2 separate regions of the Homo sapiens genome follow, and region 1 is linked to region 2. The links come from fine-mapping of genetic effects on gene expression. A gene starts in region 2. The other region holds a variant in brackets. All regions are shown on one strand. Distances are from middle to middle. Region 1 has its middle 31 kb from the start of PHACTR3. Region 2 holds the start of NPEPL1 (aminopeptidase like 1).

What was found. PIP is the estimated chance that this variant, and not a neighbour inherited with it, causes the effect.
Region 1: its variant is fine-mapped to the expression of NPEPL1 in testis (GTEx, PIP 0.95).

What each region holds. Positions count from the first base shown.
Region 1 is chr20:59,570,505-59,575,866 of GRCh38, forward strand. No RefSeq gene overlaps it. Among named protein-coding and RNA genes, the nearest start is that of PHACTR3, 31 kb to the right of the region's middle. RefSeq lists an enhancer at 1,586-2,127. The variant T/TA (reference allele first, on the strand shown) is at 2,391.
Region 2 is chr20:58,690,484-58,695,845 of GRCh38, forward strand. It overlaps NPEPL1 (aminopeptidase like 1), which reads left to right and starts at 2,317. Exons shown (of 12, transcript NM_024663.4): 1 at 2,317-2,567; 2 at 3,254-3,439; 3 at 3,939-4,109. The coding sequence starts at 2,418. It overlaps STX16-NPEPL1 (STX16-NPEPL1 readthrough (NMD candidate)), which reads left to right. Exons shown (of 23, transcript NR_037945.1): 9 at 551-744; 10 at 922-1,079; 11 at 1,241-1,297; 12 at 3,254-3,439; 13 at 3,939-4,109. RefSeq lists enhancers at 1,750-2,455, 3,896-4,503 and silencers at 1,953-2,442, 2,453-2,612, 2,643-2,722, 2,743-2,832.

The DNA of each region.
Region 1 (5,362 bases), 880 kb after region 2:
TTTTCTTGTCATTATTTTATAAACAATACAGCATAATGACTATTTACATTGTATCAGGTATTATAAGTAATCCAGAGATGATTTAAAGCAAGCTTGTCCAAAGGGCAGCCCGTGGGCCACATGTGACCCAGGACAGCTTTGAATGCAGCCCAACACAAATTCATAAACTTCCCTAAAACATTATGAAAGGTTTTTTTTTTCAATTTCTTTTTAGCTCATCAGATATCGTTAGTGTATTTTGTGTATGGCCCAAGACCATTCTTCTTCCAATGCGGTCCAGGGAAGCCAAAAGATTGGATATCCCTGATTTAATGGATACAAGAGGATGTATGTAGCTTATAAGCAAGTAGTACACTATTTCATATAAAGAAATTGAGCATCTGTGGATTTTGGTATCCCTGGGTGTTCTGTAATCAACCCCCCATGGGTACTGAGGGACTAGGGTACTACCCCTGACTTTTTCATTAGCTGACAGATATTTGAGTTGCTTCCACTTTTTGACTATTATGGTGAATGCTGCTATGAACAGCCATGCACTTGCTTTTCTGGGGAAAAATATTTCCAGTTCTCTTGAGTACATACCTGGAAGTGGAATTGCTCGGTCATATGGCAACTTGATGTTTAGCTTTTCGAGGAATTGCTAGACTGTTTCCCAAGGCAGCTGCACCATTTTACATGCTGACGATTTGTTTTTAACAATTTATGGATAGTCCCACAATGTGTCAAAGACGGTTCAAAGCAGCTTAGACCCACACCTGAATTCAGCAGGTGACTGTCAGAGAAGTGAGAAGCATCGGGGCAAGGACGGGGAATTGGGACAGGACCAGGGAGTGGGGAGAGCAGAGTCCTGCCCGGCACAGGCCATAGCTCTTCACAGGAGGCTCTGGGCCATGCTGCAGGGTGGGTACCCTGGGGTGCTCGGAAGTGGCCCTTGAAGCCCCTGGGTACACACCGTGCATCTTCCAGAGCATTGATTTTTACTTAACTGTTTGGTGAGAAAGTGATGTGTATGAAAAGAATATAGACACATGTTGACTAGAATGAAAAACTGGATGAATTTTAGAAAGCTCAAAGGGATCCAGCACCTGCATGCCTCCGCTGCAGGCTCCTTTGACCACAGCCCCCACATCAGAGAACCCCTAGCAGGGGCACCTCCCACCCACCAGAATTGGGGAGAGTTGGGCAGGCTCGCCTGCACCCGTCCTAGTGGCCACTAGAGGGCGTCTGGATCCTCCCTGGGTTGCAGATTCCAGGAAATAAATACCCAAGGTTTCTGCCCGCTTCTCCCCAGTGCTGCCGGCAGAGCTGATCCAGAAACCCACCCCGGGCTTCCCAGGGGGAAGTGGACCGCTCAGACTCCTAACTTCAGTCAGCACGCTGACGAAGGAGAGAGCGGTTGAGAATCCTACAGCTGGAGGCAGAGCTCCGCCGAGGGTCTGGCCTTGCAAGGCGTCTCCCACAGCCCGGGGGACCTTGGACCTGTGTCCCCTCCTACAAGATGCTGAGAAGCCCAGGGTTAGGGGTCCCTGAGGCAGGGTGGAAACGCTGCCAGGACAAGCCCAGCCCACAGTCCACAGCGCCTGCCCCAGAAAAAACAGCCGTCGCTCCTGGATATCTGCCACGTGACTCAAAGAGGATTTAAGGCAGTTTAGAGCGATTCACAAAATTCAGCAGCAGCTGCGACCTCGGGGACCCAGAGAGACGGGGATGACGCAAGGAGAAAGGAACAAGAGCAGGGATGCGGGATGGAGCCTGGGATGAGGGGATGCAGGCCGCTCACGGAGAATTCTTCTGGGGTCAGGCCCAGGTCTGGGTGTCTTGCGTCCTGGGGCCCCCGGGGTGCAGCCCAGGGGCTGCTTAGAGGGGCTGAGTGTCTTCTCCTCTAGGGTCAGTGCCCCTGGAAGATTTGGAGGGAAAATTTGTGTGTGTGGAGAGAAGGCAAACGTGTCATTGATTTTTATTATAAAAGAAAAGACTGTACTGCACTGTACTGGAATGATAATGATGAAGAAGATGGGATCATTCCAGTCACTCTGAGTAACTTACAGTGGCTTTTTTTAAAAGGAGGATTTCTTTCCTTTATTTTAGTTTATTTTTTAATTATGTGTTTATGATTTTTAGTGATGGGGTTTTGCTCTGCTGCCCAGGCTGAAGTGCAGTGGCATGTCATGGCTCACTGCAGCCTCAAACTCCTGGGCTCGAGCAATCCTCCTGAGTAGCTGGGACCACAGCCTTGCGCCACCAAACCCAACTACTTTTTAAATTTTTTGTAGAGATGAGGTCTCGCTATGTTGCCCAGACTGGTCTTGAACTCCTGGCTTCAAGCGAGTTGAAGCTTGAAGCCTCCTGAGCAGCTGGGGTTATAGGCATAAGCCACCCTTTCCTTTTTT[T/TA]TAAAAAAAAATAATTATTTGAGGTGATATTTGTGTAATACCAAATTAGCCCTTTTAAAGTGAACAATTCAGTGGCATTTAGGACATTCACAATGCTGTGCGCCCACTACTTCTACCTGTTCCAAACCATTTTCATCATTTTATGGTAAAACCTCATCTTTGTGGTGCCTTTTAGATCTTTCTTTATTAATTATTTATTGAGCATCTACCATGAACCGAAGTCTGTGTGGTACTGGGGATTTTGAATGGTGATTACACACAGTCTCTGCCCTCAGTGATAGCCAGCCTTTACCCCAACATGTTCTTTAAGTGTTCTAGCTCTTAGAAGCAGAGTCCTCATTTCCTCCCAGACAGCAGAAAGATTGGTAACTATGTAGCACCCATGCCCCACTCTGCTGGCCCTTGCCCTTATCAGACATTGCCAATCAATTGCAGCACTCTTACTGATCCTTGAGGCAGCCTAGTGACCCTGTGGAGCTCAGGTACATTGCCAACCAACACTGAGAAAGCTTTGGGTCATTCCGAGCTGTGATGTTGTACACACAGAGGTCTGTATCATATATACATACACTGGGTTCCATGAACTCAAGTCTCACTTGTCCACAAGTTGCAGGGCAACCGGGTTTTATAGGCTTACAGGAAATCACCCCTAGTCCTCACTCCATGCCTGCAGGGAAAACGTTGTGAAGGTATCCTAGCTGGTTCCTGCGGGTCATAAGGATGCTGAAGAAACTCCCAGCATAGACAGATACAGTGAACCTGGCAAGTCACTGCTGTTGGGTTGGTGTGTGTCCAGGGAGGTCACTCACAGCCATGACCTGCTACGGAATTTGCCAGGGGTCTAATGCAAATGAAAGTACAGTTCCCTTATTCAAAAATTATGAAGAGCTGCAAGGTGGTGGTGGTAGGGCGGGAAGCCAAGTCTGGGCCCTTTTGAGCCTGGGGCCCTGTGCCTGTCCAGGCAGCTCTCATCGCAGTCATTCTGGCCATTTACCCCCACTCGGGCTCTGCATGAGGAGCTGGCCTGGCCTGGAAGCGCAGTGTCGTGGAGAGCCTGGTGTCTGCTCTGCCCCAAGCTCTCCCCCTTTCTAGGCAGCTGCACCAAAGCAGCTTTTGGAGAACCTCCTCTCCCCAGGCCTCAGCAGAGGAGGTTCAGGTGAGCTGATCCTACCCCACTTCCATCCTCCTCCGTGCCACCAGCCTGGCTAACCCGTAGTTCCCATCCCTTAGTGACGAGGACCAGTTCAGAGTTGGGGAGAGGTGCTGTGAGGAGGTCCAAGCAAACTCGGCTTGGTGCTTTCTCTGGAGCTCCAAGGAAGGAGGTGGCCCCTTGAAGCTTTGGTAGTGGAACTCTCGGATTCAGCCATGTCTGTCACCACCCCTCCTCCTGGTCTCTCCAGTGGCCAAGGGGTACCTTTTCTGCTCCAGCCAGAAGGACTTGGATTTCAGCCCATTGGAACTGAAAGAGTCCCTGGAGTGAGTGGGGCTCAAACGTGGGGCTAGGTGGCTTAGCCAAGTGGATGCCCCACTGCACGTGGCTGCAGGAAAGACCAATACCCCTTGTCCCTCATGGCCCTTGCTGTGTCCTAGACTTCAGCCCTACAGCCGAGGGGGATCCTCTCAGCAGGACTCCTGCTGGTCTGTGTTCCCATGGCCCAGACCAACCCATGGACATTCAGGACACCCTGGAGGGTCCTCACAAAGAAGGGATGTTACCCACAGGGCTGGCCCTGAGGGTCCTGCTGGGCCCAAGGGAGCAGCTGATGGGGTGGCCTTCAGCCCTTCTGGATTCCTTGCAGGGGCTGGGCCTGGCCAGCCTGTCCTCTGCCCTAGAAGCACCCAGGGGTGATGTGGCTCTGGTGAAGCGCACAGGTCCTGGAGTCCAGTTACGAGGCCTGGAGCTTGGCTTGTCCTAATATTAGCAGCAGGGCCTCGGGGAGCCTCTGAGAGCTTCAGTTTTCTTAGGGATAATGAATAATGCTGTCTTTAGATTTTTGTGAAGATGAACTGGGATAAAGCAGATGGAGTGTTTAGCACAGGTCCTGGCGCATCGGAAGTGTTTAGTGAGGATGAATGATTAGGCTTCATCTTCCCCTCTGCATCCTCTTCTGAAGAAACCTGCTCAGAGTTCAAAAGGCCCAACCCAGGCCACACCTAAGGAGGCCAACAGTGTCTGCTGGCCTCAGACGGGGTTAGTCAGCGTCCTTGGTAGTGTGTACTTGAGAGGGCTGCCATGTGAAGCCCCATTCTGTAGGTCACCAATAGATCCATGTGCAAACAGATCAGGGGCCACGAAGGCTCTGGCCCGTGGACAGGCGGCAGGGCCGGCAGAAAGAGAGACCTTTCCTAGCACACCTCGAATTTGTCTTCATGCTAACATTTCTGTCTCCTAACTCTTTCCTCCAGTGACCTCTTCCCCACCAAGGCTAGGGAGAAAAGGAAATGGCAAGGAGGGTGGGACTGAAAATTCCAGTCCTCCATAGGGCTGCCTTCGGGCACAGCTGGAACCAGCTGCTCACACGGACAATGCCAGCAGCCCCTGATACCTCCCTGTCCAGGCTCCTCCCTCTTCTGTGTTCTTTTGATTCTGAGCCATGTAATGGCCCTGGACGTTCAGACCATCCTTCTCAGGACTAGTGGATAACATGGGCTTCTCTCTCCCAGTCCAGCAAAGTCCCAAATGTGTGCCTCTGTGAACCAACTTTTCTGGCCCAGCCCCTGAGGTCAGGTGGATGATCTATGCTGGTTGGTTGGACTAGGTCATGAGCCCTCCCCTGGAATTAGGGAGGGGCCCTGGGTCCACAGAGTGGGGAAGGAGGCTTCCAGCAGGAAATGGAAATGCTATTCCCAGCAGAGTGGGACAAAGCCTGCAAAACACATGGTCCCTGAGTGACCAGGACCAATGCCTGTCCTCTCAAATTCCAGCCCAGTGTGGGGCAGGGCAGATGGGTGGACAAATCATCTCAATGGGA
Region 2 (5,362 bases):
AAAGGGAAAGTACTTTCCTGGAATGTATTTGTATCTGTCACAAGCTGAATCTTGAGGAAATTGGCAGGCATTTGAAGTGGAATAATTCCTTAGCGTTCTGTTTAGTTTGGATTTCTTCAATTCGGGGGTGGCTTAAAACCAGAATCACCAATATTTGCTTTTAACAAGCATCTAACGTTTTCTCTTGCTTTGTGTACACTAAGTGCTCAACAAATGTTGGTTGAATTGAATCATTTTGTTCATCCTTTCTGGGGACTGTCAGGGTTATTCAGTCTATTCTTAAATATGAAAGAATTCTAAAAGAAAAACATCTCCAAAATGACCTCTCCACCAACAGTTTATCTCATTTCCAACTCCTTGTACACAAACCTGCTAGATCTGGCTTTCTGAAATGCTTCTTGGATCCCTCTTCAGTTTGCAAAATTCTATAGAGTGAGCCAGGCTCCCCAGTCGATCTCCTCACCCACTCCTATTTTCCAGGAACCTTCTGTTCTAACCACACAGGTTTCAGAGCCTGCTGGACATATTCTGCGTCTGTGTTTCCTCCCAGGACTTCTCCCACGTGGAAGGCCTTCTTTCTCAATCTCTTCGCCTGTGGAAGTCCTATTACATCTGTCAGGGCATGGCCTTAGTCTCTCACCCTCTAGGAAGATCCTCCAGCTGTCTCAGTCCTCTGGAGTGCCGTGTGCCTGTCTGCAACGTATTTGCAAACAGAAAAAAGAGTGAGAGATCTTCATACACACTGTTAGTACCCTTTACCAATGTGTGAAAACATTCAGCTGCTGTAAAATCTTTTGAAGAAAATAAGATCCAATTAGCGTTGACTTTTATGTCGGGAAAGCTGAGGGTTTCAAAGGAATGCCTTTCAGTCATTCAACAGCTTTTTTTTTTTTTTTTTTTTTTTTTTTTTTTTTTTTTGAGTGCCTGCTCTGTGCCAGGAACTGGAGGAAAAAAAAACAACAAAAAGTCAAAAAGACCTGCCTTCAGGATGCTGAAGCTCTAGTCTGTGGTGTTTCCAAGGGGCCAGGGACCATGGCTCAGAGCTGAGCAGACAGACCTGGAGCCTGTGGACAGGGAAGGTGAAAGCCTGGCTTGTGGCTCCCGGGGCTACAAGTTAGGGAGCTAGGGGGCCAGCTGGGAGGTCAGTGGTGGAAAACCTCTCACACCACGCCAGGGAGTTGACAGTGCTTTTTTTTCTTTTTTTCTTTTCTTTTTTTTTTTTTTTTTTTTTCATTTTTAGGCTGGTTATGAAGAAGAAACTCAAAATAACAGGAGTGGCTTATGGAACTACATGGAGGTAACAGAGGAGGGTACCAACCAAAGGCCCTTGAGCAATCAGGATGTTGGGTAACAGATTTTTGCTTTTAAATGACTCCTGGGTGGAGCTTCCCCAATGCATCGTCATTCCCTGACCCTTGCATCTGACCCTGTGGGTGGGACCCTCCGCCTCCACCATCCACTCAAGGCTCACCCCTGGCTCCTCCACCACCCGGCTCCTGCCCCACACCCCCGATGGCCTTTCCTCCCCTGTAAGGCGACTGAGGTGACTCAGGTCACCCTGCTCCTTCCTCGTCTCATCTCGTCCCTCCTTTCCTGCTTAGACTGTGCCAGATGACCCTTCTTGCAAAGGGGTGGGCGGGAAGGCCCCCCATGCAGCCAGGCAGTGCCTGGATTTGTAACTGGCCATCCCAGCAGCAGTGCCCTGGATGGAAAGCCACGTCCCTGTCACCCTCTCACATCCAGGGCAGTGCCTGGCAGAGCGGGGTCTGATAAACGCCAGGGAACCTCCGATTAAGTGAGGAGGAAGTGACCGTCCACGCTGTACCCACCATGCCAGGCAGTGGGACAAAAGGACCTGACTCAGGTCCAAGAGTCACTGGGCCCCTCCGGCCTAACTGATGGGTGGCCAGGGTGCGGGGTCCCTGGGGATCAAAAGCAGCTGCTAAGGGACCTCGGGGGACCTGCTTGGGGCCAGCCTGAGGCCTGACCGGGCGGAACTGCGTCGGGTGGGCTTGGGCCTACGTCGGCCCAGGCCCCACTGGAGGCCAGGCCCGTCCGGGAGGCGCTGCCTGGCGGGCCACGTCGCCCCGCGTGTTGGGCAGGGCCGCTAGGCCCAGGGGCGGCGCCGCTGGAGGCCGGGCGCGCGGGCCCTACTCGGCAGGGCCTGCTCGGGGCCGGCTTCGGGCCTGCCCGGCCGGGCCTGCCCGCACCCTTCCGCCCGGCCTGGCCGGCGCCCCCTCGCGCCCCGGGCGGGCCCTGCACGTCTCGCGAGCAGCCCGGAGCGGCGGGGGAGGCGGGGCCCGCGGGCTGCCGGGCAGGGCCGGGGCGGTGCCGAGGCCGGGCCGGAGCGGGGCGAAGGGGGCCGAGCGGCGGGCCGGGCCGGGCCGGGCAGGGCCGGGGCGTGGGCCGGCAGGAAGATGGCGAACGTGGGGCTGCAGTTCCAGGCGAGCGCGGGGGACTCGGACCCACAGAGCCGGCCCCTGCTGCTGCTCGGGCAGCTGCACCACCTGCACCGCGTGCCCTGGAGCCACGTCCGCGGGAAGCTGCAGCCCCGGGTCACCGAGGAGGTGAGCGGGCCGCCGGCCGCCATGCGACCCGCGCCGCGGAAGCCCAGGCCCGGGCGGCCCGCGGAGGCCCCGCCTCGCCCGCCGCACCCCCGCCGCCGCCGGGCCGGGCCCAACGAGGCCGGGCCGCCTCCCTGAAGGGCTCAGCCGCCAGGCCAGTCCTCGCCCGCGGAGGCCCAGCCCCAGGCCCCGTCGCCGGTGCGGCGCGGTGGTCCTCCTGTCAGCCCAGCCCTGCGCCCCGCGAGGCCGCGACACCTGCGGACGGCGGGGGGGGAGACGTGGCCGCTCCCAGGGCCGCGCGTCGGCCCCGCCTGGCGACAGGCCCTGGCTTCCAGAAGTTCCCATGGCAGTGTCCCCAGCTGCCTTTCCTTGGGGACACCTGGCCCCTGCCCCCTCTCTGGTGGAAGCCGCCTAAGCCCTATCCGAGTGTTGGAAGCAAAGCAGCCCCCAGCCTGGCCCTTCCAGGCTTGGTGGCTTCATCCCACCAGGGGGATGCGAGCCAGCCTAGAGACAGTTAGCTCTGCAGAGAGGCGACACATCTCCCTAAGGATGGGAAAACGGTGGCCGGGAGCTGCGCAGTGCCCTTCCAGGACTGCAGGAGTGGTTGTGGCCGTGGCTGCAGGGCAGGGCCTCCTGGCACGTGGCCGCTGTTTGAAGCCTCTGTGTCTTGTCTCTCCCTTCTGATCTAGCTCTGGCAGGCTGCCCTGAGCACGCTCAACCCCAACCCCACGGACAGCTGTCCCCTCTACCTGAACTACGCCACCGTGGCTGCCCTGCCCTGCAGGGTGAGCCGGCACAACAGCCCCTCGGCCGCCCACTTCATCACGCGGCTGGTGCGGACCTGCCTGCCGCCCGGAGCGCATCGCTGCATTGTGGTGAGTGCTTCGAGAGGAGGCAGCCACGGTGCTCCTAGTCGGGCAGCGGTGAGCTCGGGCCTGGGGAGCTCACAGCCCTGCTCAGACTGCAGCGCACGCCCAGAGGGCTGTGGACGTTATCATCCCTGCTCTGTAGACAGGGAAACAGGTCCAGAGAGACGCGGGGATTTGCCCCAGATCAGTTTTGGTGGCAAATCAGAGACTCAAACCTAGATTTCCTGAGGCCCACTTTGTGTCTGTCCCTCTGTCCCTCATTTTCATGGCTGGTCAGGCTGTTGACATCTGGTGGCCAATGTGTTATTTCTCTTGGAGCATGACCAATGGTGGTCCCATGGTTCCGGGGATGACCTGAGGGATGGGGTGGCGGCTGCTGTGGGACATCTCTGTCTAGATGTCACCTGCCAGGGAGCTGATGTTCCGGAGGCGTTCAAAGAGCAGCTCCCTGCACTCCCTGGTGGCGGCCCTTGCACCCCTCACGCCGTCTCCCTATGTGCCACAGATGGTCTGCGAGCAGCCGGAGGTCTTTGCTTCCGCCTGTGCCCTGGCCCGGGCCTTCCCGCTGTTCACCCACCGCTCAGGTGCCTCTCGGCGCTTGGAGAAGAAGACGGTCACCGTGGAGTTTTTCCTGGTGGGACAAGACAACGGGCCGGTGGAGGTGTCCACATTGCAGGTGGGTGTCTGGAAGGGCAGACACTGCCCCTGGGCCCGGGCAAGATCGGGCAGGTGGGAGGGAGGTCGGGAGAGGGAAAAGCTTGTTGCGGGGGCAGGAGGGGGTTCCTGCCCTTCCCAGGAGCTTTGGTTCCTGGGAAGCGGCAGAGGCTTTTCCAAACCCAGGCCCCCTGCCTCTGCCTCAGCGTGGTCTGTGACTTCAGGATTCTGTTGTATACAGGCAGTGTTTGTTGAGCACGTAATCAGTGCCAGGAACGTCCATGCTGTTTTCCAAATAACCCTGCCCGTTTATGTGAGCTCCGTGTGCACGTGTGTGATGTATGCACGTGTGTGTGTATGTGCGTGCACATGTGTGTTGCTGTGCGTGTATGAGTGTATGTGCATGTGTTGTATGTGTGGGGGGTGTGTGTGTGCATGTGTGATGTGTGTGTGTGTGTGGTATGTGTTGCTGTGTATGTTTGCTGGTGTGTGCATGAGTGGTGTGTGTGGTGTACGTGTGGTATGTGTTGCTGTGTGTGTGTGTTTGCTGGTGTGTGCATGAGTGGTGTGTGTGTGTGGTGTGCATGTGTGGTGTGTGCATGTGTGGTGTGTGTTGTTGTGTGTGAGTACTGGTGTGTGCATGAGCAGCATGTGTTGCTGTGTGTATGAGTGCTGGTGTGTGCATGAGTGGTGTGTGTGTGTGTTGTGTGTGTTGCTGTGTGTGTATGAGTGCTAGTGTGTGCATGAGTGGTGTGTGTGTGGTGTGTGTGCATGTGTGTTGCTGCACCCTTTACAGGGAGCACTTCTACATGTGTTATTTCACTCAATGCTGAGAATGATCCTTTTGAGGCTGCAAGGCCGGAAGTGATTTCCCAGCTCCAGATCCTTGGATGGGCCTGACATCAGGCTCCTGTCCCCACGGCAGCGGTCCCAGCCTCTGCGCCTGCCACCTCCAGTCCCCGAGCCCACAGCGCCACCCAGGTTGTCTTTTCTCATGTGTCAGCGCTCATTCTTCACTTCTGGCTCTGGAAGGCTGTCGCCTTCACCCAGGCAAGCTCTCCCACATCAGCACTTGGGCCACACCTCATTTCTTTCACTGTGTGCTCTCTGAGGCCTGTAACCACTGCCCCTCAACCCAAATTCTTCCATCTTCACCAGCATGAGATAGCTCCCCTTTTTTCCCTTCGTCTCTGAGCTTTTAAAAAAGTCTAACTGGTTTGCCTTGCTTAATCCTCTTTTCCCTCTTAACCCATGGAGACAGAGTTTTTGCCCCCA